2 separate regions of the Homo sapiens genome follow, and region 1 is linked to region 2. Evidence: fine-mapped expression QTL. A gene starts in region 2. The other region holds a variant in brackets. All regions are shown on one strand. Distances are from middle to middle. Region 1 holds the start of FAM229A (family with sequence similarity 229 member A). Region 2 holds the start of BSDC1 (BSD domain containing 1).

The links. PIP is the estimated chance that this variant, and not a neighbour inherited with it, causes the effect.
Region 1: its variant is the best candidate, but not a certain one, in a credible set for the expression of BSDC1 in blood mononuclear cells (TOPMed, PIP 0.69).

What each region holds. Positions count from the first base shown.
Region 1 is chr1:32,359,308-32,374,132 of GRCh38, reverse strand. It overlaps FAM229A (family with sequence similarity 229 member A), which reads left to right and starts at 11,648. Exons shown (of 3, transcript NM_001167676.2): 1 at 11,648-12,175; 2 at 12,257-12,403; 3 at 12,598-12,863. The coding sequence starts at 12,042. The coding sequence ends at 12,700. TSSK3 (testis specific serine kinase 3) reads right to left here and starts at 11,594. Exons shown (of 2, transcript NM_052841.4): 1 at 11,287-11,594; 2 at 9,821-10,538. The coding sequence starts at 11,431. The coding sequence ends at 9,877. It overlaps BSDC1 (BSD domain containing 1), which reads left to right. Exons shown (of 11, transcript NM_018045.8): 10 at 5,583-5,686; 11 at 7,479-9,500. The coding sequence ends at 7,511. LOC124903933 (a long non-coding RNA gene) reads right to left here. Exons shown (of 3, transcript XR_007065642.1): 3 at 12,805-14,825. RefSeq lists silencers at 11,717-11,916, 12,067-12,366. The variant C/T (reference allele first, on the strand shown) is at 8,628.
Region 2 is chr1:32,387,912-32,402,736 of GRCh38, reverse strand. BSDC1 (BSD domain containing 1) reads left to right here and starts at 8,296. Exons shown (of 11, transcript NM_018045.8): 1 at 8,296-8,333; 2 at 8,597-8,657. The coding sequence starts at 8,323. It also overlaps the pseudogene GAPDHP20. RefSeq lists enhancers at 6,468-7,163, 7,911-7,990, 7,862-8,557, 8,281-8,570, 8,558-9,255 and 1 more.

The DNA.
Region 1 (14,825 bases), 29 kb after region 2:
TTTTTCTCATATTTCTAGTGGTAGGAACCTGAGATCAGTGACCCACCCAGTAAATATTTCAGTGTGAAATAGTCCTGTAGAAGAGGGAGGAGTAGGTGGTGGGCCTGACAGGTGTAATAGGGTTGCTGGGTGGATGGTCCCAGGGCCCACTGAGGTTGTGATTGTAGGTTTTAAGTGAGACCATCAACATGTTGTATTTTTGTTCAGCCATATTCAGTTGCTCAGGTGCAGGAACAGAGCAGATGGGGAGTTGGATCTAATTAGGTTCAAGTTTAGCCAGGTAAAATCAGTTGATGAAAAGAAGAAAGTCCGCTGGGCACAGTGGCTCACACCTATAATTGCAGTACTTAAGGGAGGCTGAGGCAGGTGGATCGCTTGAGCCCAGGAGTTTAAGACCAGCCCTGGCATTGTGATGAAACCCCATCTCTACAGAAAATACAAAAAATTAGCCAGATGTGGTGGCACGTGCCTGTAGTCCCAGCTACTCGGGAGGCTGAGGTGGGAGGATCACCTGAGTGGGGAGGTTGAGGCTGCAGTGAGTTGAGATTGCTGCACTGCCCTCCAGCCTGGGTGACAGAGCTGAGACCCTGTCTCAAAAAAATAGGAAAGAAAAGAAAGTATATGCAAGAAGTGATAAGAATGATGCCTCATGGAATCTGAGCTGAGTACGGGAGAGAATGAGGGATAGTGAAACAGTTGGAGGGTTACAAATTATAGGTTTCATTTGGAATTGGGCTACAAAGGGTGATCAGAAAAAATCAGTAGTGGTTGGAGACTGGATGGAATTGAAATTACAGGAGAGGTAAACATAAGCTCTTAACTACTCTGCTATGCTGCCTCTGCTGCCCTCAGGGCCTGTGAAAGGAGAGGCTGAGGATGTGCTATAGAAGACTCACAAGAAACAACCGTAGTCAGGTGGGAGGAAGCCAGAGTCTTGGACTAGGCTGGAACAGTGGGAACAGAGTAGAAGAAATAAAAAGAAGAATGGGGGCTTGGAGACAAAGTGACTCCTTTTTCCTGTTGGGCCCAAGTCCTAGGGTGACATAAGGCTTGGTCTCTGGGTATAGCAGAGTCTCTTGGGGTACCCTAGCCAAAGGGTTTTACTGGTTCCCAGGGTGATCCCTGTCATCGCAGAGCTGCTTTCCACCTATGTTTTGTCACAGCATTCGTCTGTTCTGAGAGACTGGACTTCTTTCTGCAGAGAAGGGGAGGAGAGATTGGGGCAGGCCTGTGGCCTGGAAGGAGCCTGGAGGTTAAGACCTCACTTCATGACCGTGTGACCTAAGAGCAGTTTTGCCTCTATTTCTTAACTGGGGAAGCAGAGAGCCGATTAAACAGAATAAAATGAGCTGTGAGTGACAGCACTACAAAGTTAGCAATCACCCGAAAACTTCCATTTTCAAAACCAAACCAGTAGAACTCCATTCTGAAGTCTTAAATTGTAGCATAGGCCACCTCTCTGCCACATGCACATTGTAATGGAGATCTTAGTGCTCTCCTTGTGTGACAGGGTAGGACGGTGGAAGGAGGCAGATGGCAGAGAGAACCCAGCTTCACAGCTCCCTGCACCACCTGAAGCCTTCATTTCCTCATCCGTATACTGGGACTGTTAATACCCACCCAAGAGCTAGATGTGGAATATTCCAGAAATGTTAGTGGATACTCTGTTCTCTACCCCTGAAAGGTTCTGCCATAGCATTTAAGCCTGAAGAGACAGTTTCAAGTCCCTAGAGGGCAACCTGAGGTTAGGGAAAGCTGTCATGGCCACAACCAAAGCCCTGAAGTGAGGAAGCAGCGAAGAGTCTGGCTAACCCACAGGAAGCCTGTGGTGACAGCCAGATGAATGTCACCTAAGTGTCCTGAAGGCACAGAGGGATGTAGGTGCAGAGTCAGAAGAGCTGGGTCTTGGCTGCCCTGACTTCCTGAGGTACCGTGTACAGAATGACATAACTCTGAGACAAGGCCCTTAGAAGAAAGGCAGCACCATTCATTACATAGCCATGTGTATGTATGTAATAGGCACTTTACATTCATACCTCTAATTCTAACACCATTGTTTCTCAAACGGCAGGGCCAGGTCTACACAGAACACACAGGTACCTGCTTATAATGCAGCCTTCCCAGCCACCAGCTAGACCTGCTGAGTCTTAGTTGGGACTGGGGGTGGGCAGGGTAGGAGTCTGTATTTTAATACGCTTCTCCAGTGGTTCTTTGCAGAGGTTGCTTTTATCCATATTTTATAAATAGACTGAAGCCAACAATAATTTGCCCAAGACTACACAGTAAAGGAGTAGGTATTCAACCCAGGTCTGCCTGGCCCCAGAGACCATGCTCTGGCTAGAAGAGAGGATGATGCAGGATACCATAGAAGGAATGTGGGAGCGGGGCTGAGGGGTAGGTCTCAGCGCGGAGGCATCTGGTGAGGAGTAGGTCGGAGAAGAAGAAACGGAGATGTTTACTGGTCATGCCGTTGGAGGATCAGGGACCCACTCTTTTTAAAGGTACTTAAAAAAAAAGACTACAGGCTGGGTGCGGTGGCTCACGCTTGTAATCTCAGCACTTTGGGAAGCCGAGGCGGGCAGATCACGAGGTCAGGAGATCGAGACCATCCTGGCTAACACGGTGAAACCCCATCTCTACTAAAAATATAAAAAATTAGCCGGGCGTGGTGGCGGGCGCCTGTAGTCCCAGCTACTCAGGAGGCTGAGGCAGGAGAATGGTGTGAACCCAGGAGGCAGAGCTTGCAGTGAGCCGAGATTGTGCCACTGCACTCCAGCCTGGGCGAGAGTGAGACTCCATCTCAAATAAAAAAAAAAAAAAAAAAAAAAAGATTACAAAGTCGTATGTGTTCATTTTAGGAAAAAAATTAAGGAAAATCACCTCATGAACTCATCACCTAGAGATAACTTTGCTAGTGTATTTGGATATCTTGCTCATCTCTTCTGCATGTGTGCATGCATCTATGGGCACATTTTAAAGCTGGAATCTTACTGTACATGCTTTATTGAAAGGAACTATTTGTGTAGTTTACTTCTTAGTAATAACTTTTATATATATCTTTTTAATATTACCTGTAAGAAGTCATAGCCAAATATGAATGTTTAGAGCAATGATCATCAAATAGTACAGACAGGCATCAGAATCATCTAGAGCAGAGGGTGGTAAGCTTTTTCTGTATAGGACCAGACCATAAATATTTTAGGCTTTTTGGGCCATGCAGTCAAAATTACTCATCTCCGCTCTTGCAGCATGAAAGCAGCCATAGACAGTATGTAAACAAATGATGTGACATGGCTAGAATTTTTTTTTTTTTTTTTTTTTTTTTTTTTGAGACGGAGTCTCACTCTGTCACCCAGGCTGGAGTGCAATGGCGGGATCTTGGCTCACTGCAAGCTCTGCCTCCCGGGTTCAAGCGATTCTTCTGCCTCAGCCTCCCGAGTAGCTGGGACTAACAGGCGCTTGCCACCACCCCCAGCTAATTTTTTGTATTTTTAGTAGAGATGGGGTTTCACCACATTAGCCAGGGTGGTCTCGATCTTCTGACCTCGTGATCCACCTGTCTCGGCCTCCCAAAGTGCTGGGATTACAAGCGTGAGCCACCACGCCCGGCGACATGGCTAGATTTGATCCCTGGGCCATAGTTTGCCAACCCCTGGTTTACAGAAAGGGTCTGTGACTATTGAGTGCCAACTATGTGTTCTAAAAACTTGAAATACATAAGAGAACAAAACAAAAGATCCTGGCACTCACAGGGCTTATATTCTAACTCCTCTATTAATATACAATAAACATATTAAGTCTGATTATGTAATATGTTAGAAAGTGATCACTACAATGGGAAAAAGAACAATCCAGAGCCAGGCGCAGTGGCTCACGCCTATAATCCCAGTACTTTGGGAGGTCAAAGCAGGCGGATCACCTAAGGTCAGGAGTTTGAGACCAGCCTGGCCAACATAGTGAAACCCCGTTTCTACTAAAAATACAAAAATTATCCAGGCATGGTGGCATGCCCCTGTAATCTCAGCTACTCAGGAGGCTGAGGCAGGAGAATCACTTGAACCTGCGAGGCAGAGGTTGCAGTGAGCTAGGATCGCGCCACTGCACTCCAGCCTGGGCAACAGAGCGAGACTCCGTCTCAAAAAATAAATAAATAAGTAAAAATACAAAAATTAGCTGGATGTGGTACCAGGCAGGTGCCTGTAATCCCAGCTACTCAGGAGGCTGAGGCAAGAGAATCTCTTGAACCCAGGAGGCGGAGGTTGCAGGGAGCTGAGATCGTGCCACTGCACTCCAGCCTGGGTGACAGAGCGAGACTCTGTCTCAGAAAAAAAAGAACAACTAGAGCAGAGTGAGGGTGATGATGGGTTGCTCTTTAAACTAGGATGGTCAGTGTAGGCCACATCTAGAAGGTACGATTTGAGCAATGGCATGAAGGAGGTGAAAAGTTGGTCTTGTAGATATCTGAGGATACGAGTTCCAGGTGCAGGGAACAGCCCATGCAAAAGCCCTAAGTTGGGAATGCGCCTGGTATGTTTCTGGAGGAACAAGATTAGTGTGGGCAGAATGGAGTGAGGAAGAAGAGGTCTACTGTTTGGGGGTCCGAGGGGAGGTTTTTGTTTTCTTTAGAGACAGGGTTTTGCACTGTCAACAGGCTGGACTGCAGTGGCATGATCATAGCTCACTGCAGCCTTGAACTCCTGGGCTCAAGTGATCACCACACCTCAGCCTCCTGAGTAGCTGGGACTCCTTAGGTGTGTACTACCATGCCTGGCTAATTTTTAAATTTTTTTCTAGAGACAAGGTCTCAGTTCACTGTTGATTTCCTCTGGAAGATTTCTGTGACTCTCTTGGAGCCTCTGGGCCAAAGTGCTTCTCCGCTCTTTAGTAACCTGCCTTTTCCGAGGTAATAGTTTAAGGCTGTTTGGCATGGATGTGAAGTTCTTCTCCAGCCTAACCTCTAACAGCCTACAGTGTTCCACCATGTAACTCACTGTTTACTTGTCTAATTCCCTGTCAGTGGGCTTTCAGATTGTTTCTAGGTTTCCATCACTATGACAGCACTGCAGTGAACACTCTTTGCTAAATTTCTGACTGAATCCAAGATTTTTCCTTAGAATAGATTCTTAAAAGTGGGGGCCAGGTGCGGTGGCTCACACCTATAATCCCAGCACCTTGGGAGGCCGAGGTGGCCAGATCATTGAGGTCAGGAGTTTGAAACCAGCCTGGCCAACATGGTGAAACCCCGTCTCTACTAAAAATACAAAAATTAGCCAGGTGTGTGGGGCGTGCGCCTGTAGTCCCAGCTACTTGGGAGGCTGAGGCAGGAGAATCGCTTGAACCTGGGAAGCAGAGGTTGCAGTGGGCCGGGATCACACCACTGCACTCCAGCCTGGGTGACAGCAAGACTCCATCTAAGAAAACAAAAAAAAAAAGTACGATTGGTGCGCCAGAGTGAACACAAAATGTAAAGACTTGTGTATTTGTGAGACCCTTTTGAAGCATGCTATCTCCCCAGCTACACCCTCTTCAGGTGCCCCTTCCCTGCCTCCTCCTGCTTTTCACACTGTGGCTCGTGGTTCCAGGCTCAAGCACGGACATCAGTGAGGACTGGGAGAAAGACTTTGACTTGGACATGACTGAAGAGGAGGTGCAGATGGCACTTTCCAAAGTGGATGCCTCCGGGGAGGTGAGTGGGCCTGGTGGGTCAGAGGGAAGCGAGCCTAATGGTCCTGGGTGTGAGAGCTCTCCCCAGCCAGCCCAGCTGTCCCCTCAGGAGGGTCCCTGCTCCTGTCTGAGGTGACAGGTGGTGGGAAAGGAGCTGGAGCTTCCTGCTCAGACCCACAACATTGGTCATCAGCAGGCTGCACTTTTCCTCAGTTCCAGGGTGGATAGAGGGTCAAGTTCTTGACCTTAGCTCTGTATCAAAATTGCCTGAGAAACTGCTTAAGAAAACAGATGTCATGCTGAGCGCGGTGGCTCACACCTGTAATCCCAACACTTTGGGAGGCCAAGGTGGGAGGATTGCTTGAGGCGAGGAGTTCAAGACCAGCCTGGCCAATATAGTGAGACCCCATTTCTGTTTTTGAAAAAAAAAAAAAAAGGAAAAAAGAAAACAGACATCAAACCCTGCCTGACCTTCTGAGTTGTGGTCCTCAGGTATGAGGCCTGAGTATATACTTGGCCTTGGAGACAAAAGACCAGTGTGATCAAGGGCAAGGGCAAGTTACTTAACCTGAGCCCCTGGTTCCTCATCTAAAACATGGAATTGATCATTATAAGACCTGGCTATAAGCTGTAATGAGGTGATCCATGTAGACACCTTAGGGCTATTGCCTGAGACATGGTGACCAGCACTCAGGAGACATTAGTGATAAACCCCACAAAACCCATTCCAGTTATTAAGCTCAAGGAGGCCTTAGTACTGTTATTCTTCACTACCTCTCAGAATCAAAAGTGGCTCATTTAGATTGAGAGGCTGGAACAGTCCAAAGCTCTCCCAGCTAATAAGTGACAGGACTGAGGCTGCAACCCAGACATCTGATTCATGTCAGCGTTAGTTCCACTGTCACATAAGAACCACATGAGTCCTTCCATCATGTAACTTATGAGCCTGTTAGAAAGAGGTGGACAGATTAGAGAGACATGTGAAGGGCCTCCTTTTTCATGATGGGAAACTGAAGCCTTGGGGGAGTATTTTACCTACTCAGGAGTATTTTGCACTTGTGACTACCTCACTATACCCAGGACAGAGAAAGCCCATAGTGCCCTGTCAGGCCACAGGGGCTTGCTGGCTTTTTGTGTCTTTGCAGCCCCCTTTAAAACCTGACGTGCAGTACACGTGAGCATTCTAGAACCTGCTATACCAGGGCTTAGCCGACAGCAGGCCAAGAGTAGGAACAAAGCAAGAAAACGTTCCGTGGGGAGACTTGAGCTGGGAATTAGGGTGTTGGTGCCCCTAGTGAAGACCTAGTGGGCATCTGTAGGCCACTGCCACCTCTGCTTTTGGCCACAGTGCCACTCAGGCAGTGGCCTCCATTCACCCAAAGACTAAGTAACTTGCCCTTGATTACACTGGTCTTTTGTGTCCAGGGCCAAGTATCTGCTCAGGCCTCCTGAGTTCTCTGCTTCTCAGAGCCATGGCATTATCTGCTCAGCAGGAGGCAAGTTCTCCTTAAAGGACTGAGGCTGACTTGGTTCCTGTAGGCAGCCATCACCTTGTGGTGTCTGGTGTTGGTTGGGGGAAGTGTTTCCTTTAGGTCTGAGGTAATCAGAGCATCAGGCCCACCCCTCAGGCAGAGGGCAGCTCTGCCCCTCAGACACATTCCTTAAGACTAGGGGTTCACTCTCAGTGGGACCTCAGAGTATGGCCTGGGGTAGGGGATGGGAGGTGGCTCTGCTCAGCAAGTGGAGGTTAGGTCTGGGCCTGACTCAGGAGTAACTATGTGTTTGTGATTTCCATTACCCCCTCCCATTTGCAGCTGGAAGATGTAGAGTGGGAGGACTGGGAGTGAGGGAGCCAGAGGGAGCAGCTCCCCCACCCATGGCATCTCTCGCCTCCCTCGCTCGTCTCAGCCCAGCCCTGGAAGACTGAGAATGTTCCCCCAAATCTCCTCTGCCAACCAGAGCTCTGGGCACAGATTCTGGTGGCTCCCTGCTGGCCCTCTTGGGCCTCTGCTCACACCTGGGAAGGGGCTCTCTAAATCCCGGCCAGAAACTCTGACTTGTGCCAACAATAGGATGACCCAAGGGAGAGGAAACCTATCCTCCTCACCAGAAGAGCCTGTGTTTTTCTGCTGAACACCCACTGTTCCTGAGGACTCCTGCTGGGAAGTCCCAAGGGATAGTTCTAGCCCTTCTGCCTGTGTAGACAGAAGCTAAACCACCAGTCTCTCTCGGAGGAAGCTGAGACAACATACTCTGTCCATACATAAGCAGGCAGGGAGGGCCATGCCACCTACCCTTGGCTAAACAGGGACAGTGAACACATTTTGGTTCCTATCCCAGTGGGTAAGAGGCACTTATCTCTGGGAAATTTGCCTCTCTTGGGACTCTCCCCCTCCCAGGCATTTTCCATTCCTGGAAAGGCTCCTTTGGGGTTCAGAATCCAGAGACCAAACCCTGACCCACCTCCTTCCTTTCCTCCAGCCCACGCTGGTCTGTCCCCATGCCTTCCCAGGGCTTCTTCATGTCGGATGCACCCAAGTCCTTAGCCCAGCTGTGCCACCTGCAGGAGTTCGCTCTTGCGTTTCTTCCCCTCCCCAAGAAGGGAGGGGGCTACTTCAGGCCCTTCTGTGTGTTGCCTGGCAGGATACCTTGTCCAACCAGCTACCCACCTCAACTCCCCTGTAGTTTAGGACACAAAACAGCTACCAGCGGTACAGAGCGGTGATCAAAGCCGAGTACTTACAACTCTGGTAAGCCTAGCTTCTCCGCCTCAGCCCTTCTGCTTCTGGAAGGGCTATCCTGGGGGTGAACTTGAAACTCTCATCAGGCTTCTGCAAAAGCTCTTCTTCCTGAAGACAGACCCAGCCTTTGTGCTCTCACCCTCCACTCTGGTAAAGCTGCACCTCTGGGGGAATGAGGGGCTGCAGGAATCTCTGGAGAGCCTGGTGCTTCACGATGCTGCT[C/T]TGGTGATTCTTGTACCTAATCTGGTGTGCTCACCAATGAGTGAAAGGGATCGTGGGTCAGGGACACCGAGAGAGTGAGGTCACTTCCACTTCAAACCTTCAGTGAGGGGGTGGGATGGAGAGAATGCTGAATCTTTTTTTTGACGGGATGGGGTTTTTCTCTTTGTAATTATTTCTTTAGTTTAATTAACCTTTTGGTTGTTTGTGCAATATTATATATTTTAAATTATAATGCATCTCCCCAGAGTATTTTGTAGCTGGGAAAAGAAAAAAGGAAAAAAAGAAAAAAAGATTCTAACAGCTGTTAGTTTTATAATTAAAAAAGAAAGAAAAAAGAACTTTGTCCTGAACCTTTTACAGACTTGCCGTTAACAGCATTAAAGTGATTCACCCGAAGCTGAAAGGTGTCTGGGGGTCTGTTTTTGTCCCCTTGGCAGCTGCACTGGGCCAGGGCAGGACTGGCTTCCCACTTGGAGCCAGAGACAGGGTAGGGGGATAGCCTAGGTCCAGAGGACGTACCTTGTCCTCATCCCAGATTCAGCTTTGCCTTTGGGATGAGAAAGGGTCAGGGCTCGCAACAGGCCTCTCACTGGGACAAGGAGTCGGGAGGCCATCTCTGCACTCCCAGTGCCTCTGCTTTCCTTTGGAAAGGAAGTTGCAACAAGAATGGCTTCAGTTGCTCTTGGTCATTTTTATCCTCTCTTCCCCCTGTTTGTATATGATTCTTGGGTCTATTTTAATTAACTTTAGTATGAAAATCACTTGTCATGCCAGGCGCAGTGGCTCATGCCTGTAATCCCAACATTTTGGGAGGCCAAGGTGGGTGGATCACTAAGGTCAGGAGTTCCAGACCAGCCTGGCCAACATGGTGAAACCCCATCTCTACTAAAAATACAGAAATAGCCAGGCGTGGTGGGAGGTGCCTGTAATCCCAGCTACTGGGGAGGCTGAGGCAGGAGAATCGCTTGAACCTGGGAAGCAGAGTTGCAGTGAACTGGAATCGTGCCACTGCATTCCAGCCTGGGCGACAGAGCAAGACTCTTAAAAAAAAAAAAGGAAGTCTGAATGAGGCCCTTTGATTCCATGAAGATCTCTAAAAGGAAAGAGTAGTAGTAAGGCTGGGGTAGATGTAGGTAAGTTTTAGGATAAGTAAACTTAAAGCGTAAAATATATATCACCATTTTAGAAGCGGGTTTTTGGGTTTGCTTTCTCCCCCTACTTTATTGGAGAGCACTTGCCATTGCTTTTATCAAGTGCTTGCTAGCCATGGATGCCAACTAACTTCTTCAATTGAAGGCCGGAGGATCATATCGGGTTCCAGGAGCCTCTTGAGCAGGTCCTGGCAATCGGCCGAGATGCTCAGATGAGTGGGGAAGGACACCCCCTTCTGCTGCTGCCACAGCATCTTGGGGATGTCTGTGTCGTCAAAAGGTAGGCTGGCACAGAGCATGACATACAGGACCACACCCATGCTCCAGACATCACCTTTTTTGCTATCGTGGGGAATGCCCTGCAGCACCTCGGGGGCAGCATAGGCTGTACTGCCGCAGAAGGTCTGGCTCAGCTCCCGGTGTGACTTGGGCAACACCTTGGCAAAGCCAAAGTCAGTCAGCTTCAGGTTGAAGCCCTGCAACAAGGCGTTCTCACATTTGAGGTCCCGGTGGGCCACACCACAGCCATGGCAGTAGCGGATGGCCTCAACCATCTGACGGAAGAGGGCCTTGGCCCGGCTTTCAGGCAGTGGCCCCCCATTCAGCACGCAGTCAAAGACATCCCCTCCCTCAGCGAGCTCCATCACCAGGCAGATTTTCCCGTCGGCAGACTCCAGCATCTCATACACCTGGATGATGTTCTTGTGGTCCAGGGTACGGACGATTTGGAGCTCCCGAGGGAGGAATCTCTGGATAAACTCTGAGGAAGTAAGGGGAGGAGAGATGGGCTGGCAGATCAGAAAGGCCCACCTCCTCACACCTGTCTCCTGCCTTCCAACTTCTGCCCACCTTGTCTGGGTCTTATTTCTTGGCTTTCTTAATGGTCTTAAGTGTGTCTAGCTGCTTGGACATTGCAAAGAATGTTCACTTCTATTATTTTTGTCGTTAGTATATCATTCAAAAGAAGCACTCCCCACCAGCCTTGTGGACTGTTGTGAGCAGTCTGTGAGACTGGATATCAAGGTGCTTTAGGGACTTTTAGACAAAGCCACAGAATCACAAATTATAAGGCCTGATTTGTCCACAGGGTGGTGAGCCAGCTCCTCCCGCCACTGTCCCCTGACCCCACAATTCTTTCCATGAGCCCTGTCTTCCTTTTTCCCATCTCCACGGGCCTTGGCACCAGCCCCTGTTCTCTACCAGCCCTGGTTGTGGCCTCTGCCAGTCTCTGTTCCCCTGCCGGAAAGGAAAGCCTGGCTCAGGTTTTGCCTCTGAGGATCCTTCACCTCATGCCACTTTCATCTTGCATTCTGGGGGGGTGTAATGTTCCTGGACTCCCAGAACCCCTCTGTTCCCCACTGACCCACTCCAGAGCTGCCATCGGGCTTGCTTGGTTCCAGGCCAGCGGGAGCAGGGAATGATCGAATGATCGTTCTAACAAACAGGAGGAAGCACCCACCCACCTCAGCCAGTCCTCCCTCCTTCCCTCCAAAGGGGCCCCGGCTCACCTTCTGGCCCTCCCATCTTGTCTATAACTTTAATTGCCACTTTTCTTTGGTGTTTTTTGGAAAATGCTTCTTTGACTTTTGAGTAGGTCCCTTCCCCAATGGTCTTGCCCAGCTGGTACCCATTGGAGAGCAGAAAGTCCTCCATGCTGTCTAGCGCCGCCTTCCTATCACCCTCTCAGCTCATGCTGCCTCTGAGAGGCAGCTCTACTCCACCATCGCCCTTGGCCTGCTCCTTTTCTCCCCAAGGACTTCATCCGCAGCCGCCCCCAGCGTTAGAACATTCTCTGTCTGGACACAGCGGCGGGTGGTGGGGAGGGACAGGGCCAGACATTTTTAAACTCCGGTGCAATTGTGATGTAGATGCTGTGTGACCCTTGGCCAAAATGGGCAGTGCCCCTACCTGCCCTCACTACCACCACCAAACTCAGCCCGGATTAAGTCACCGCCGAGCCCGCCCCCGTGCCAGGCATTGAGTTGTAGTCCCGCCTGGGAGGGCGCTCCGCCGCGTCTGTGTGGACCGGGAATGCGCGGCTCCTCGGCGTGGACGCCGCCTCGCGGCGGGTTGCCCTGGCCTGCTGCGCCCCCCTCGGGTGTCCGGGGTCTGCGCGACCCCGTCTCCAGGCGCCATGGCCAGAGGCCTCCAGTCCCCGATTCTGGCCCGCGCTGAGTGCCAGGGGCGGCAGGGGGCACCGTTGGGGGTTCTCCAGTGGGAGGAACGTGCTCTGTGAGGTCAGCGCGCCGCGGCCCGGGTCACAATGCTGCCCTCCTCGACGCCCGGGCCCGGGCACGCCACAGAGACCTGCCCGGCTCCGCCTGGACCGGAGCGTTCTCCCGCGGCCAGGGCTCCGGCAGCTGCTTCTAGCCTGGGACCGGTCTCAACCGCCGGGAGGTGAGCGACGGCCCAGGGGGCGGGCGCGAGGCGGCGGCGCCCGGCGACCCGGGAGAGGCCTGACCGCCACTCCCCGCGCAGAGCGCCCCGGGGCTTGGACATGAGCGCCCAGGAGCCCCCGCAGGGTCGGAGATTCCCCATTGAGGCCGGAGACTCCCGTGGCCTTGCCGCCGCCCCCGAGTCCCAGGACAGCCCGGAGGCGGTAGCGACGGAGCACAACCCGGTCAGGTAAGGCCCGCGCCCCACCCCCGCCTCCGCCCGTCCCGCGGCCCCGCCCTCCGTCCCACTTGGCGCCCCCAGCAGTCAGGACCCCGCATCCACGTCCGGACCCCCGGGGACCCCAGGTGCACTCCCTGGGTGCGCCCCACAGGATGGGCCAAGCCCCTGCCTCAGCGGCCCCTGTCGCGCGTCAATTTCCCCAGGCCGCTTCGTCGCTGCCCTGGATGCCACTGCCTGACGCTGCTGCACGTGCCCATCGACGTCTACCTCGCCATGGGCGGGAGCCCCCGGGCCCGCGCCACGTGAGTGCGCCTGCTCCCTGCGGCTCCGCGGGAGCTGGGCGGGAACGAGGCCCCCAGCGGGCCACCACGCTGAGGTCGCATGCGCCGAGCACGAGACAATGATGCACATTTTAAAATAAAAGAATGATGCACATTTTAATAAAGCACAGCACAAACTGTTCTTTCCACTCCGGGCTGGCAGTGTATGTCTATCCGTCGGGCCCACCAGCTGCTCTGCCCAGTCCAATAACACTTTCCCTTCCGCAGCCTCCTCGTTTGGACCCAGCCTTAGGGGCCCGCCCTTCCGCCTTTCAACCTACGCCACTTCACTCCTCTCGTATCTTGCTGGTCCTGACCCCTCCTGGGCAGCCTTTCCCTTGGGCCCTGCCCTGGTCCATCTCTCTAACCCTCTGGTGATTCTCCGGTGAAATTCACATCACTGTGCTGGACCCTGGCAACCCACAGAAGCGGGGAACAGGAGGAAGAGGTGGACCGACAAGTAACATAGAATACAGCCATAGGCCACCCACACCAGGCTATCTATCTATCTTATCTATCTATCATCTATCTATCTATCTATCTATCTATCTATCTATCTATCTATCTATCTATGAGATGGAGTCTCGCTCTGTTTCCCAGGCTGGACTGCAGTGGCATGATCTCTGTTCACTGCAACCTCTGCCTCCCAGGTTCAAACAATTCTCCTGCCTCAGCCTCCCAAGTAGCTGGGACTACAGGCACCCGACCAGACCCATTTTAATCCTCTCGAGCGAGAAGTTCTGCGACAAAGTTCTGCGACTTGCTCTTTGTGGCCCTAGGTGCCTGGGACCTTCCTTATTGGAAGGGTTTGGAGCTGCCCCAGTCCATCCTGAGCCTTGGTTTCTCCCAGGACTGAAGTGATCATAAAAAGATTGGGGAAGAGGCCATTTGAAAAATGGTGGCTTGCCAGGCGCGGTGGCTCACGCCTGTAATCCCAGCACTTTGGGAGACCGAGGCAGGTGGATCACAAGGTCAGGAGTTCGAGACCAGCCTGGCCAACATGGCGAAACCCCGTCTCTACTAAAAATACAAAAATTAGCTGGGTGTGGTGGTACGCACCTGTAATCCCAGCCACTCGGGAGGCTGAGGCAGGAGAATTCCTTGAACCCAGGAGGCAGAGGTTGCAGTGAGCTGAGATCATGCCACTGCACTCCAGCCTGGGCAACAGAGCAAGACTCTATCCAAAAAAAAAAAAAAAAGAGAGAGAAAGAAAGACGTTGGTTTAACTTCCTATTTTACAGATGAGTGAACTGAGCCTTTGAGACTTACCCAAGGTCCCCCAATGAGAGTCTAGCACACTCCTCAGCATCCTGAGACCACATGACCTAAGATCTGCCCTCGGAGGGGCCCATGACAGGAAGCCTGCCTGGAGGTGCTAGTATTTAAGCTAAACAACTATTTCCTACTTTCCAATTTGGCTTTAATGAGCCCGTATATTCTACTTTCCAATTTTGTTACGGGGGGAGTGTAACCTAAAGGTCAGGTTCAGTCTCCTGTCCCCTGAGATCTAAGGACAATTGATTCAACACCCTCCTCTAATCCTCATAGGGTAGAGAAGTCCAAGCTTTCCCTAGAGCACCTTAAAATTCCACGTCACCCAAAAGGGATACCCTTCTCAGTTTCCACATAAAATGCTCTCCCAGGCAGTCCCCATGTAGGAGGCTTACTAAAAGGGCCTATTTCCTCACTGGTTTAAAAAAAAAAGGCATCAGCTGGTCTCTTTGGACTCTGCCAGCCCCCAAATAGTGAATCCTTCTCATTCTTCCTTTTTTTCCATCTCTCCCACTTCCTTCTCCTCTCTTCTCAACCCTCCTTTCCTTAAAAAAAAAAAAAAAATAGGCCAGGCATGGTGGCTCAGGCCTGTAATCCCAGCACTTTGGGAGGCTGAGGCAGGAGGATCACTTGAGCCCAGGAGTTCAAGACCAGCATGGAAAACAGCAAGATCCCATCTCTAAAAACAAAACAAAACAAAAAAACCAGGTATGGTGGCGTGTGCTTGTAGTCCTAGCTACCGGGGAGCCTGAGGCAGGAAGATTGCTTGAGCCCAGGAGTTTGACGCTGCAATGAGCCAAGGTCACACCACTGCACTCCAGCCTGAGCAACAGAGTGAG
Region 2 (14,825 bases):
CCCCCATGTTTGTGATGGCCGTGAACCTTGAGAAGTATGAAAACAACCTTGTGATTGTCAGCAACGCTTCCTGTACTGCCAATTGTTTAGCTGCCCTGCCCAAGGTCATCCATGACAACTTTGGCATCATGGAGGGACTCATGGCCACAGTTGGTGCCAATATTGCCACCCAGAAGACTGTGGATGGCCTCTCTGGGAAACTGTGGCGTGATGGCCACAGGACTCTCCAGGACATCATCCCTGCATTTACCCACTCTACCAAGGCTGTGGGCAAGGCCATCCCTGAGCTTAACAGAAAGCCCACTGGCATGGCCTTCCATGTCTCCACTGCCAACATGTGGGTTGTAGACCTGATCTGCCATCTGGAGAGAGCTGCCCAAATATGATGACATCAAGAAGGTGGTGAAACTGGCATCGGAGGCCACCCTCAAGGGCCTCCTGAGCTACACAGAGCACCAGGTTGCCTCCTCCAACTTTAACAGAGACACCCACCTTTTCCACCTTCAATGCTGGGAATGGCATTGCCCTCAAAGACCACTTTGTCAAGCTCATTTCCTGATATGACAATGAATTTGGCTACAGCAACAGAACGATATACCTTATGGTCTACATGGCCTCCTAGGAGTAAGGGCCCTCTGAACCACCAGCCCCAGTGACAGCACGAGAAGAAGAGAGGCCCTCAGCTGCTGGGGAGTCCCTGCCAAACTCAGTCCCCCACCACACTGAGAATCTCCCCCTCCTGAACACTGTTTCCATGCCAGGCTCCCTGAAGAATGGGAGGGGACTATGAGACCGCACTTTGTCATGTACCATCAATAAAGTCCCCTGTACCCAGCCAAAAAAAGTAAAGTGAGCATAAATGATAGTGAAATATATAAAAGTAATTACATAGTGATGAGTTTGGGTTATTTATTACCTTTGTTTTTATTTTATTTATTTATTTTTTAGAAATGAGCTCTTGCTCTGTCACCCAGGCTGGAGTACAATAGTGTAATCATACCTCGCTGTAACCTTGAACTCCTGGGCTCAAGCGATCATCCTGCTTCAGCCGCCTGAAAAGTTGCGATTATAGGTGTGAGCCACCACACCCAGCTCTATAACTTATTTAATGGTAAGTTTATAAAATTTAATTAAATAATGTCCGTGTTCAACAACCAGCTTTTAAAATTCCTTTTTTTCTTTTTCTTTCTTTTTTTTTTTTTTTGAGACAGGGTCTCCCTCTGTCACCCAGGGTGGAGTGCAGTGGCTCGATCCCTGCTCACTGCAACCTCTGCCTCTCAGGCTGAAGTGATTCTGCTGCCTCAGCCTCCCAGGTAGCTGAGACTACAGGCGTGAGCCACCACACCCGGCCAAAATTCCTGAAATGTTAACAATCAGCTCTAGAGGGCTGAACTAGAACCAGTCCATGGGCTTTTAGGCATTCCCTGTGCTGCCTGCATCAGTAACTTAGGCATTTTGGTCTTACACTGGGTTCTACAAATTACGCAGCCAGTCCTCCTGCCAACTCTATGCTGGAATCTGCACGCCAAACCGAGGGCGGGCTTGGGCCTTGGAAATTTCTGAAAGGCTTGAGTCACCTCCCAGGATTATCCCAGGCCTAGCAGCCTTCCACGGAGGAACCCCACCCTGTCCAGAGGAGCCAGAAGGCCTCTCCTAGGAGCCGGGGAGATAGGGAGCCGGGGAGCCCGGGAGCCAGCTTCCCGTGAAGAATGAGTCCACAGCACCATCTGGTGGCACCTGGGTGTCAGGGCTCCTTGGGAGCAAAAGCCAGGATCCTGGGATAAGAATCACCTGCCAATTCTAATGGGGTGGGTAGGGGGAGTAGGAAAAAAATCATCTGCCAAAAGGGGTCCAGCAGTGTCAGAGGGGGGATTTGAGTCAAAGGAGGGTCTGAGGGTGTGGGATTTACCTGCATTCATACTTTGCCTAAGAGCTGCAGGAGACTGTAGAGGCCCCAAGGACAGTGAAAAAACTGAATTTCAGAGAGAAAAAGTGACAACTGCCCATAAACCAGTATTAAAATCTAGCTCTGCTGACTCCCAAACCAGTGTTCTTTCAACATACTGTTTAACTCAACAGATGTCCATTAGCCCTCTACCAGCGCCTAGCATTGTATGAGGCTCTGAGGACAGGGGTAAGGAGGTAAGACAATCATAATCCCTACATGAGGACTTTATGCCTTGCAATGTGCTAGGTGTTTTATTTATTTTCTTTAGTCATTACAACAACCAGAATTAGTATCCCAATGTTAAGGATGAAGACATTGGCCGGGCACAGTGGTTTATGCCTGTAATCCCAATACTTTGGAAAGCCAAAGCAGGTGGATCGCTAGATCCTAGGGGTTCGTAGACCAGCCTAGGCAACATAGCAAGACTCCATCTCTACAAAAAAAAAAAAAATTAAATTAGGCATGGTGGCACATGCCTGTGGTCCCAGCTACTCAGGAGGCTGAGGCAGGAGGATCACTTGAGCCTAGAAGGCTGAGGCTGCAGTGAGCCATGATCATGCTAGTGCAGTCCAGCTGGGGTGACAGAGTGAGACCTGCCTCAAAAAAAAAAAAAAAAAAAGGATGAATATGTTTGATGCCAGAGGTTATGGCAGTGAAAGGAGCCAACGGTCAAGGTACTGGGGTGAACAGATAAGGAAGACCAAAGAAACCCAAGCAAAGGGTCCCACTGAATCCACAGTCACTAGGGACATCATGGGCGAGCACTCTGCTGGGCCTGGGGGTGAGGAATGAGACAAGGTGAAGATAACGAAGGACAGGATGCCTGCAGCTATCATCTGGGTGGGGAGGCAGGACATAAGGTTGGAAGAAGTTAAGACTAGCATGAAATGCACAGAAGCTTGATTTTATTAGACAGCCTTGGGTTCAAATCCGAGTTCTGCCATTTCCTAGCTGTGTTACCTTGAGAAAGTCACCCCATATCTCAGAATCTTAGCTTTTTCACTTTTATTTAAAAAAAAATAATAGAGGCCGGGCACAGTGGCTCATGCCTGTAATCCCAGCACTTTGGGAGGCTGAGGCAGGCGGATCACCTGAGGTCAGCAGTTCAAGACCAGCCAGGCCAACATGGCGAAACCCTGTCTCTACTAAAAATACAAAAATTAGCTGGGTGTGGTGGTGCACGCCTGTAATCCCAGCTACTCAGGAGGTTGAGGCAGGAGAATCGCTTGAACCTGGGAGGCTGAGGTCGCAGTAAGCCAAGATTGCACCACCGCACTCCAGCCTGGGCGACACAGTGAAACTGTCTCAAAATAATAATAATAATAATAGAGATAGGGTGCCATTATGTTGCCCATACTGGTCTCAAACTTCTGGGCTCAAGCAATCCTTCCATCTCAGCCTCCCAAAATGCTGGGATTACATGAGTCACCGTGCCTGGTCACCTTCTTCATTTATAAAATGTAGATTAAAAATAGTTCCCACCTCATTGAGCTTTTGGGAAGGTACACTGTATAAAGTGCTCACCCCAATGGCACCGTTAGATCTGTTAACAGTAGCATTCAATCATTTGATCACATCATCTTCACAACACAAATCATTTCCTTATTCCAAACCTTTGGTGACTCTCCTCTGTCCATGAATTTTAAGTCCTGCATTCAAGGCTCTCAAGAATCGAGATGTTAATGACCTTTACAGCCTCACGTCCATCCTCTCTTTTCCTTTTTCTTTTTAGCTATTCCAGATTGCTCTAAATTAGTCCTGTCTTTGTCCTCACTCTCCTTGCATTTATTCTTTCATTCACTGAACAAATATTGAGTGTCTATTATGTACCAAACACTGTTGTAGGTGCTAGCCGTAGACAAGTGAACAAGACAGACAAAAATCCTGCCTTCATTGAGGTTGCATTTCTAGTCTGAAGGAGGCAAACAATTTTTTAAACAAAGTATAATATACAATATGTCAGAGAAGAGAAATGGGGGTGCTTGTTATGCAACTTGTGATTTTAAATAATGTGGTCAGGGTGAGTAAGAAGATTATATTCAAGTAAAGATCTGAATGAGGTGAAAGTTAGAAGCACATAAATATCTGGAGGTAAGTGCAGTCTAAACAAAAGGAACAGCAAGTTGAAAGGCCCCAAGTCAGGAGAGTCCCGGGAATTTTCAGGGAATATCAAAGTAGCCAATGTGTCTGGAGCAGAGTGACTAAGGGGGCCAGTAATGTGAGGTCAGATCAACTATACGGGGCCTTAAAGGAGACTGTGAGGACTTATTGGCTTTTTCTCTGAGTGAAATAAGAGGACATTGCAGAACTTTGGGCAGAGGAAGGCTGTAATCTGGCATGTATATACATATACATATATATATATATACACACACACACACACATGTTTTTCTTTGTTTTAAAGACAAGGTCTCTCCATTGCACAGGCAGTAATGTAGTGGCATGGTCACAGCTCACTGCAGCCTCAACCTCAAAAAATTAGCCAGGGCTGGGTATGGTGGCTCATACCTGTAATCCTGGCACTTTGGGAGGACGAGGTGGGTGGATCGCCCAAGGTCAGGAGTTCAAGACCAGCCTGACTAACATGGTGAAAACCTGTCTCCACTAAAAATACAAAAATTAGCAGAGCATGGTGGTGGGCACCTGTAATCCCAGCTACTTGGGAGGCTGAGGCAGGAGAATCGCTTGAACCTGGGAGGTGGAGGTTGCAGTGAGCCAAGATTGCTTGTCACTCCAGCTTGGGTGACGAGAAAGAAACTCTGTCTCAAAAAAAAAAAAATTAGCTGGGCGTGGTGGCATGCGCCTGTAGTTTCAGCTACTAGGGAGGCTAAGGCAGGAGAACTGCTTGAACCCGGGAGGCAGAGGTTGCAGTGAGCTGGGATCGTGCCATTGCACTCCAGCCTGGGTGACAAGAGCAAAACTCCATCTCAAAACAAACAAGCAAACAAACAAAAAACCACCAAATATCTGTTTGAGTACTTGCCTTCTATTCTTTTGGGTATATACTCAGAAGTGGAAGTGCTGGATCATATGGTAATTCTGTTTAATTTTTTTGAGGAAATGGCATATTGTATTCCATACCAGTTGCATTCCCAGTGACGTATGTCTTTTAAAAGATTACTTTCAGGCAAATGAAGACTAGACTTAAGGAAGGCAAGAGTGGATGCAGAAATATTTGTTAAGAGGCTCTTGTAATTAACCATGAGATTGATTATGGTAGCTTGTATCTACATAATAACAGTGGAGGTGGTGAGAAGTCACTAGATTCTGGTTTTGTTTGAAAGGCAGAGCCAACTGGATTTGCTGATGGGATTAGTTTGGGAGTATGAAAGAAAGTGAGAAAGCAAGGATGACTCCTAGGTTTTTGGCTCGAGCAACTGGAATAATGAGGTTCCATTTACAAATGTGGGAAAGTTTGCAGGAAGATGAGGTGGATAAATCAAGAGTTTGTTTTGGGACATGTTAAAAATAATACACCTATTACACATGCAAATAGACAAAATGAACCTGATGTTCAGAGAAAATGTATGGGTTGGAGAGGAAATTTGAGAGCCATCAGCATATACATGGCATTTAAAAGTATGAGATTAGTGAGATGGCTCACACCTGTAATCTCAGCACTTTGGGAAGCCAAGGTGGGTGGATCACTAGAGGCCAGGAGTTTGAGACCAGCCTGGGCAACATAGTGAAGCACTGCTAAAGAAAAATTAAAAGTAAGGCAACACAGGGAGACCTCATCTCTATTTAAAAAAATAATAATAGCTGGGCTTGATGGTGCATGCCTGTAGTCCCAGCTACTCAGGAGACTGAGGCAGGAGGATTGCTTGAGTTCAGGAAGTCAAGGCTGCAGTGAGCCATGATCGTGCCACTGCACTCCAGCCTGGGCAACTGATATGGTTTGGCTCTGTGTTCCCACCCAAATCTCATCTTGTAGCTCCATAATTCCCACGTGTTGTAGAAGGGACCTGGTGAGAGATGACTGAATCATGGTGGGGGCGGGTTTTTCCCGTGCTTTTCTCATAATAGTGAATGGTTCTCATGAGATCTGATGGTTTTAAAATCGGGAGTTTCCCTGCACAAGCTCTCTTCTCTTGTCTGCCACCATGTGAGATGTGCCTTTCACCTTCCTCCATCATTGTGAGGTCTCCCTGGCCATGTGGAACTGTGAGTCCAGTAAAACTCTTTCTTTTGTAAATTGCCCAGTCTCAGGTATGTCTTTATTAGCAGTGTGAAAATGGACTAATATGGCGACAGAGTAAGATCCTGTCTTAAAAATAAAATAAAATGGGCCAGGAGCAGTGGCTCACGCCTGTACTCCCAGCACTTTCAGAGGCCGAGGTGGGTGGATCACCTGAGGCCAGGAGTTCAAGACCAGCCCGGCCAACATGGTGAAACCCCATCTCTACTAAAAATACAAAATTAGCTGGGTGTGGTGGTGGGTGCCTGTAATCCCAGCTATTCTGGACGCTGAGGCAGGAGAGTCATTTGAACCCAGGAGGCAGAGGTTGCAGTGAGCCAAGATCATGCCACTGCACTCCAGCCTGGGCAATAGAGTGAGACTCCATCTTAAAAAATAATAATAAATAAAATCATGAGACTTTATGAGAATATCTGGGGAATGACTATAAACATCAAAAAGGAGGAGGACACCAAGGGCTGAGCCTTCTCCCAGGGAATATCCCATTCCAGCAACAAGAAGGCGGTGAGAAAACAGCAAAGAATACTGAGATGCCAATGAACGGGGAAGAAAGTCAAGAGGGCATGATGTCCTGGAAGCCAAATGAAGAAAGTGGTCAACTGTGTCAAATAAGATGCGGATGTAAAACAAGAACTGAAAAGTGGCCATTCCTCTTGGCGACCTTAAGAAAGTTATGTCAGGCTGGGTGCAGTGGTTCATGCCTGTAATCCCAGCACTTTGGGAGGCTGAGGAGGGCAGATCACCTGAAGTCAGGAGTTCGAGACAAGCCTGGCCAACATAGTGAAACCCCATCTCTACTAAACATACAAAAATTAGTCGGGCATGGTGGTGCACAACTGTAATCCCAGATACTCGGGAGGCTGAGGCAGGAGAATCGCTTGAACCCGGGAGGCAGAGGTTGCAGCGAGCTGAGATTGCACCACTACACTCCAGCCCGGGCAACAGAGCAAGACTCTGACTCAAAATAAATAAATAAATAAAATAGATGTTTCCGTCTTCCACAGGGAGGACCAAAAATAAATAAATAAATAAAATAGATGTGTCCGTCTTCCACAGGGAGGACGTGGGATGGTGGCGGAGCTGGCTGCAGCAGAGCTACAAATAAATATAAAATAAATAAAATTAAATAAAATTAAATAAATAAAAGAAAGTTATTTCAAAGGATTGTCTGAGAGGCAAAAACCTAACTGCAGTGAGTTCAAGAGAGAATGGGAGGAGAGGGGAGTTGCAGACTGTGAGTAGGCAACGCTTTTGCTGTAAAGGGGAGTAGGGAAACGGTGAGGGATATAGAGAGGGCTGGTTTTTGTTTGCCTTTGAGATGGGAGAAACAGCAGTACGGATGATGACAAGGATAAATGCAGTCATCAGAGGGAAAAGAGATGAAGGGGGGATTACTAGATCTATGTCCTTAAGCAAACAAGAGGCGATGGGATCTACCGCACACGTGGAGGGGCTGACCTTAATTAAAGTCCAAAGTATGTGGGCTGTGGAATCTCCCTTCCAATCGCAGTAGAACTCAATCCAGGCGGTCTCCGGATTTCTCCAGACCACCTCCACCTGGCGTTGTTCTGAGCTGGGCCACCGAAAGTTGAGATTACTGAATGTGTGTGTCTCCCATTAACCCGTAAGCCCTCCAAAGGCTGCATCTAAGTCGCCTCTGAATTATTCACATTCCTCCAAACTCTGGGCCACAGCCCCGCAATATGGGCTTATTGAATTAGCCCAAAGAGACACAAAGCAGCCTCTACGCAGCTGGTTTCACAAAGGGGGGCGGTCCTAACCCTGCGCTCTGGGATCCTGACGTTCGAGCTATCTCTCCTCCTCCCCTCTGCTCCCAGCTCTCCGCAGTCCAGCTTGTCGGCTGATCATCGTCCATAGAGGCCACCGTACCCGACGTTTGCGGACAGTGACAAAGAGTCAAGCTTGGTGGAGCCTGAGGACAGGACTGAATGACGATTGAACTGAGAGTTCAGGGGCGGAGTTTGAGGGCGAACTCGGGACAGAGACTGGATAGAGTTCAGGGAGGCGGGACCTAATGATGGCGCAGGGAGGGGATTGGGCTGAGGGCGGTGCCGGCGCGAGGATTGGGCCGAGCGCCTCGGGGGCGGTCCTTGAGGGGGCGGTGCCGTGTCGGAAGTCAAAGGTCAGTAAATAGTGGTGATGTCATGCAGGCAAGATGGCGGAAGGGTGAGCTTGTCGTTTTGCTCCTAGGCGTTGGGGCCTGAATTCTCCCAGGGTTGGGGTGCTGGGCGAGAGTCCCGGTGGGGAACGTGAGATCAGCGGGGGCGTGGACTGATCTGAAAGGGCAGAGTGGAGTCGCATTGTGAGGGGGTGGGCAAGCGGTCTGCGAAGCCTCGGCCCGCAGGGTACATCTGAGCGGGGAACAAACCGGATCCTTGGGCGGGCAGGAATCGCACCGCGGTGCTGCCAGATGTGTCTGTCTTCCACAGGGAGGACGTGGGATGGTGGCGGAGCTGGCTGCAGCAGAGCTACCAAGCAGTCAAAGAGAAGGTAAGCCGGGCCCGTGCCCTTCTTCCCTCAGCAGGGCCCTGCGCCGCCTCAATGCAACCTGGTCCAACCAGCCCCGCCCAACTTTTGCGGGCGCTAAGTCTCAAGGATGAGGCTGACCTGGGCCTTTCTTTTAGCCTCTACCGGTCCACGGGAAGACAGACCTCGACGCAAACCAGTGTGATACTAGCCACAGTGAAATAAAGATGGTTTTAAAGGCTGGAGTTAACGAACGTTTTGTAGGAATCCATAGGAAGGAGCAATTTATTCCAGCTCAGGAAATTCAGTTTCTTCGTGAAAGAGAGAGCATTTGATACAGGTCTTGAAGGAAAAGATTCTAGCAGTAAAAAAACTTACTCGTATAGTCATTCAAATATTAGAGTATATGCGACAACCAGCACTCTGATAGGTCTTGAGGATACAGACTTCAGCCAAACAGATGTAATCCTGGGCCTTACAAAGCTCACAGTCTAGTGGAGAGACAGCCATTAACCGAGTAGCCAAACAAATAGTTGTTTAGTTACCGTTGTGGTAAGTTCTGTGAAAGGAAAGTACAGGGGCACCTTGTCTGTTCTGGTTAGTCAGTAACTCACCAGGGAAGGCCCCTGTGGAGAAGGAACCTCATCAAGGGCAACCCTGCCTAGACAGGATGAAAAGCAAGAACCCAAGCCAGAGATGAGCATGAGCCATACACACTGGTGCCTGATGAGTTCTAAGTAGGGGCTATGCAACGGGCAGTAGAGAGAGAGAGATTAATCACCAGAGAGTGGAAGGCCTTCTTGCTGAACAATCTCTGTGGGATGAGTGATATTTGGCTGTGCCAGTGGGTAATTTGCCAATGTGTATTCCTGTTTCATTTCATGCTTATTTGTCAAAATCAGCCCAACTGAATTGTGGGAAAAGTTGATTACTATTTACCTCAAGCAATTGGGATGAGTCCTGCTTCAGGGCCAACTCCAGGAAGCTTCTGACCTCACCTAAATAAGTCCTCTACTCTGGGAGTATTTTTGTTTTGTTTTGAGACAGAGTCTCACTCTGTCACCTAGGCTGGAGTGCACAGGTGCGGTCTCAGCTCGCTGCAACCTCTGCCTCCCAGATTGAAGTGATTCTTGTGCCTCAGCCTCCCGAGTAGCTGGGATTACAGGCATGTGCCACTACTCCTGGCTAATTTTTGTATTTTTAGTAGAGACAGGGTTTCACCATGTTGGCCAGACTGGTCTCGAACTCCTCACCTCAGGTGAGCCACCTGCCTCAGCTTCCCAAAGTGCTGGGATTATAGGCGTGAGCCACCACACCCAGACATCTGGGAGCGTTTTTATTCCTCCCTTATCCTGGGTACTCCTGGACAGCCTCTCAGCAATAGCCCAGCAAATCTGAGAATGCCCTGAGCTGTTTATGTTGTTGATGAGGACTGAGAGGCTTGCACCCTAACATTTGATAGAAGAGACCCGATAGTAGCATATTTCCTGTTGGGTAATTTCCTGGCAGGAAAGTCTGACATTCATTCAGCAGATGTTGCATGAGGGCCTCCTGTGTTTGTCTCAAGGTTGGTCTTATCATAACTTATGAAAAATAGATAGTTGGCCAACCTTCCGTCTTCATTCTTGGAATTCCCAGTTAAAAGCTGGGGTGGGGGTGGAGGTGGGAGTTGTTTATGCCTTTTTGGAAAGAAAAGACGTAATTTCCCTTTTTTTACTTTCTTACTCTTATATGTACTTGGGCAAGTGTTTTTTGTTTTTTGTTTGTTTGTTTTTGAGACCAAGTCTGGCTCTGTTACCAGGCTGGAGTGCAGTGGCTCAGTCTCAGCTCTGCAACTTCCGCCTCCTGAGTTCAAGTGATTCTCCTGCCTCGGCCTCCTGAGTAGCTGGGATTACAGGCATGTGCCACCACGCCCAGCTAATTTTTCTATTTTCAATAGAGACAGGGTTTCACCATGTTGGCCAGGCTGGTCTCAAACTCCTGACCTCAGGTGATCCGCCTGCCTCGGCCTCCCAAAGTGCTAGGATTACAGGTGTGAGCCACCACGCCTGGCCTCTTGGGCAAGTTTTTAACCTCTCTAGGCCTCAGTTCCTCATCTATAAAATGGGAATACTAACAATACCTACTTGATGAGATTGTGGTGATGGTTAAATGTTAATATATGTAAAACACTAAGAACAGTACCTAGCATACAGTAAGTGCTATATAAGCATTAGCTGTTATTAAGTGCTGAGGCTGATGGGAAAACCTCTTAGATACCACCCCCAGTTCGTTTTTCCTTCCATTTTTTTTCTTGGTCTTTTGGTGCTTTCCTATCTGTATGTCCCATTCTGGCTCCATCTGGACCACTCACTTCTCAGCACTCCTTAGAACACATTGCCCTGAAGACCACAGCTATGAGATGGTGCTATCATCTGCTTTCCTCTGCTCCTTACCTCCTCCTGTCCTGTCTTCCTGTGTGTTGTCAAGGGCAATATGACTGACACAAATACGTGTGCATACACGTTGATAGAGAAAGGCATATCATTGCTCTACATACTTACCAGAAAGAAGAAATTAAAAAGAGAAAGGCACCAAATGCTTTTTGGTTCCATCACAGATTCCCCAACCTCATCTGGGCCCACATACTCTTCAGTCTCCAATTTGCTTCTCCTCCCCTTAACTTCAGAAACTTTCCCAAAACCTAACTCTTCCCTGGGGTCCCCTATTCAGCCGCTTTATCCCTTTCACTTCCAGGAGACAACCTCATCTACTTTTTGAAACTTCAGGTGAACAAACAGGATCTTTAACTCTCTCCCCACCCTCAAAGCCACCACCTATAAACTTATCTTTACTCAGTCAGCTTTACCTACTGCTTGCCAAATCCAGTGGGTGGTTTTCAGCCCTTATCTTCCTGGACCATTCTGCTGCATTTGACGCTAGTGATCACTCCCTCTCTTGAAACGCTACTCTCTTGGCATTTGTGACATGATTCTTAAGTCTCCACATACTTCTCCAGACGTTGCTTTTGTAACTGTCTCATGAGTTCCTCTTCCTCTGCTTGCCCCCTACAGGTAGTGTCTGAGGACACTTGTCCTCAGCCCATTGCTCTGTCCACTTTCCAAACTCTTCCTGGGTCACCTTCTCCACTTTCCTGTTAGGGCGACTCTTAGACCTTTTGCCTGAACTTTAGTGTTGTGTTTTGCTTTGTTTTGAGATGGGCTCTCACTTTGTCACCCAAGCTGAAGTGCAGTGATGCAAACATGGTTCTCTGCAACCTCCACTTCCTGGATTCAAGCAATCCTCCCACCTCAGGCCCCCAAGTAGCTGGGACTATAGGCGTGTACCATCACGCCCAACTAATTTTTGTATTTTTTGTAGAGATGAGATCTCGCCATGTTGCCCAGGCTGGTCTCAAACCCCTAGGCTCAAGCAGTCTGCCCACCTTGGTCTCCCAAAGTGCTGGGACTACAGGCATGAGCCACCATGCCCGGCCAGCTTTAGTGTTTGAGGATAGCTATTGCTGGACAGCTATCCTAGACAGCCCACAGTCATCTCAAGTTCTGCGTGCCCAAAGTCATTGTTACCACCTTGTCTCTAGGACTGCTCCTCCTCCAGGATTTTCTCACTTAGCTGGCAGTACTGCATCTACGCAGTCACCTATTTTAGCAGCCTGTGGTGCTTCCATGATTCTTTTCTAGCCCTCAGTCAACATACCTGTTCAGTCACCAAATCCACCTTCTTCCATCTCCTGTATCTTGAACCAGTCTCATCCTCTCCATCTTTACTAGCATTGTCCTTACTCACATTTTTCTATTTTCTTTCCTGGATTATTGCAGCAGCCTCCTGACTGGTCTTCCTTCTTCCTCTTCTAATCTTCTCGCCTCTGGACCTTTCCTCCATTCCAGTCACTGGAGTAATTTAGTGAAAAGGCAAATCTCATGTCCCACCCACTTCAAACCTTTGGTGGCTCCCCATCATCCATAGGGCTGACCAGGCTCTCCCTGGTTGCCCTTGGCAACCTCTCCAGCTTTATCCCTCACCACTCTTGCTTCACATTTTATGTCCATCAGGACTGTAATGCTTGTAGACGTCACTAAACCCATGTCAACACTTCTTAGCTGACTCCTGTTCTTTTTTTTTTTTTTTTTTGAGACAGGGTCTCACTCTGTTACCCAGACTGGAGTGCAGTGGCATGATCACAGCCCACTGCAGCCTCAACCACCCAGGCTCAGGTGATTCTCCCACCTCAGCCTCCTGGGTAGCTGGGACTATAGGCGTGTACCACCACTTCTGGCTAATTTTTTGTATTTGTGTGTGTGTGTGTGTGTGTGTGTGTGGAGACGGTTTTGCCATAGTGTCCAAACTGGTCTCAAATTCCTGGGCTCAAGCAATCCTCCTGCCTCGGCTTCCCAAAGTGCTGGGATTACAGGCATCAGCCACTGCACCTGGCCCACATCAATACTTCTTAACCAACTCCTGTTCATTCTTTAAGGGCCCATTCCAGGCTTCTGGTCACCACATCTTCCCAACCTCCCCATAGTACAGCAGCTACTGCTCTGCCCTTGCACATCAGCACTATCATGGGACCATTTTCCCCAGTAGACTGTGACCTGCTTGAGGGCAACGTATGTTCATGTTTGTCTGCTCAGAGCTCACAGTCTAGCGGGAAGACAACTGTTTAGTCACACAAGTGGTTACATAATTGAAATTTCAATGGTCCATGTAAATTTAACAAGCAAACATTTTTTGAGTACCTACTGTATGCTCTGTGTCAGATACTGGGGAACCATCAGGGAACAAAACACATAGGACCTGTGTTCACACAACTCACAGTTTATCCAGGAAGACAGACATTGAACAGGTCATCTGAAGTCTAAACTATGTTCAGTGTTAGAAAAGAGATAAATTGGGAGGCCAAGGTGGGCGAATCATGAGGTCAGGAGATCGAGACCATCCTGGCTAACACAGTGAAATCCCGTCTCTACTAAAAATACAAAAAATTAGCTGGGCTTGGTGGCGGGCGCCTGTAGTCCCAGCTACTCGGGAGGCTGAGGCAGGAGAATGGCATGAACCCGGGAGGCAGAGGTTGCAGTGAGCAGAGATCGCGCCACTGCACTCCAGCCTGGGTAACAGAGCGAAACTCCATCTCAAAAAAAAAAAAAAAGAAAAAAAAGAAGAAGAGATAAAGCAGGGAGAGCCAGCTGAGCCTGAAGAGGCAGCAGGAAGCCCCTCTAGGGAAATGAAGCATAGACGTTGAGGATGAACAGGAGTTTTCCAGATAAGAGGGTTCCTTCATCGTGTTTACAGACTTGGTTTTTTTGAAGAGTTAGAACTCTGTATCAGGGAGAGGAAACAATGTGTTCAGATACTCTGAGGCAGGACAGATGCTAGGGCATTTTAGAAACTTGAGGAAGGCCAGCTGGAGCTCAGTGAACGGCACAGTGGTAGGGGATACCAGTCTGCCAGAGGCCAAGTTATATAGGCTTTGTAAGTAAAGGTGGATTTTCAATTTGCTCTTAGGATAGTGTGTAAACTTAAAGAGTGTAAAGCAGCACGGTCTGCCCTGACAGACAAAGCACCCACTGGGTGTCATAAGGAGAATGAAGTAAAGGTGGCTGAGACAACCTGGGAGGAATCCAGGTGAAAGAATAAGTTGGCCTGGACTAAGATGGTGGCAGTGTGGATAGAAAGAGTGAATCGGTAAATGACCCAGGGCACAATTTCATGGTGCTGTGAAATATTTTTTAAAATTTTAATAAAAGTAAATAAGTAAATGACCTCCTCCACCCCCAATTAAGGAGTCCTGAGTTGATATGGAGGCATGATTACCACCCCTAGAGAAGCCTGTAGCTGATAGACTGTGCCATTCAGAAACTTCCCAAGCTAATGAAAAGTGGGCAGGCCCTTCCCAGAAGAACAAACCACAGGAGCGCTCAAAAACATGCTTTAAAAAATGCAGGTGATTATCCCCGTGTAAGATGAAAGGGCTTGCAGGGGGAGTGGCCACTGAGATACTCCAGGAAGCATCCTAGAGTTGGTGAGTCTGAAGCAAGACAGGGCAAGACCTAGAAGTGAGCTGAGGGTCTGCTTTCTCAAGTGAGGTCTGGGTGCAGGCTGAGAAACAGATTGGTTTAGCAGGAGCAAATATGCATTCTGCCCAAAGGAGCTTTGTATATGAATAGAACCTCGGGATGGTAGAACCAAGAAGGC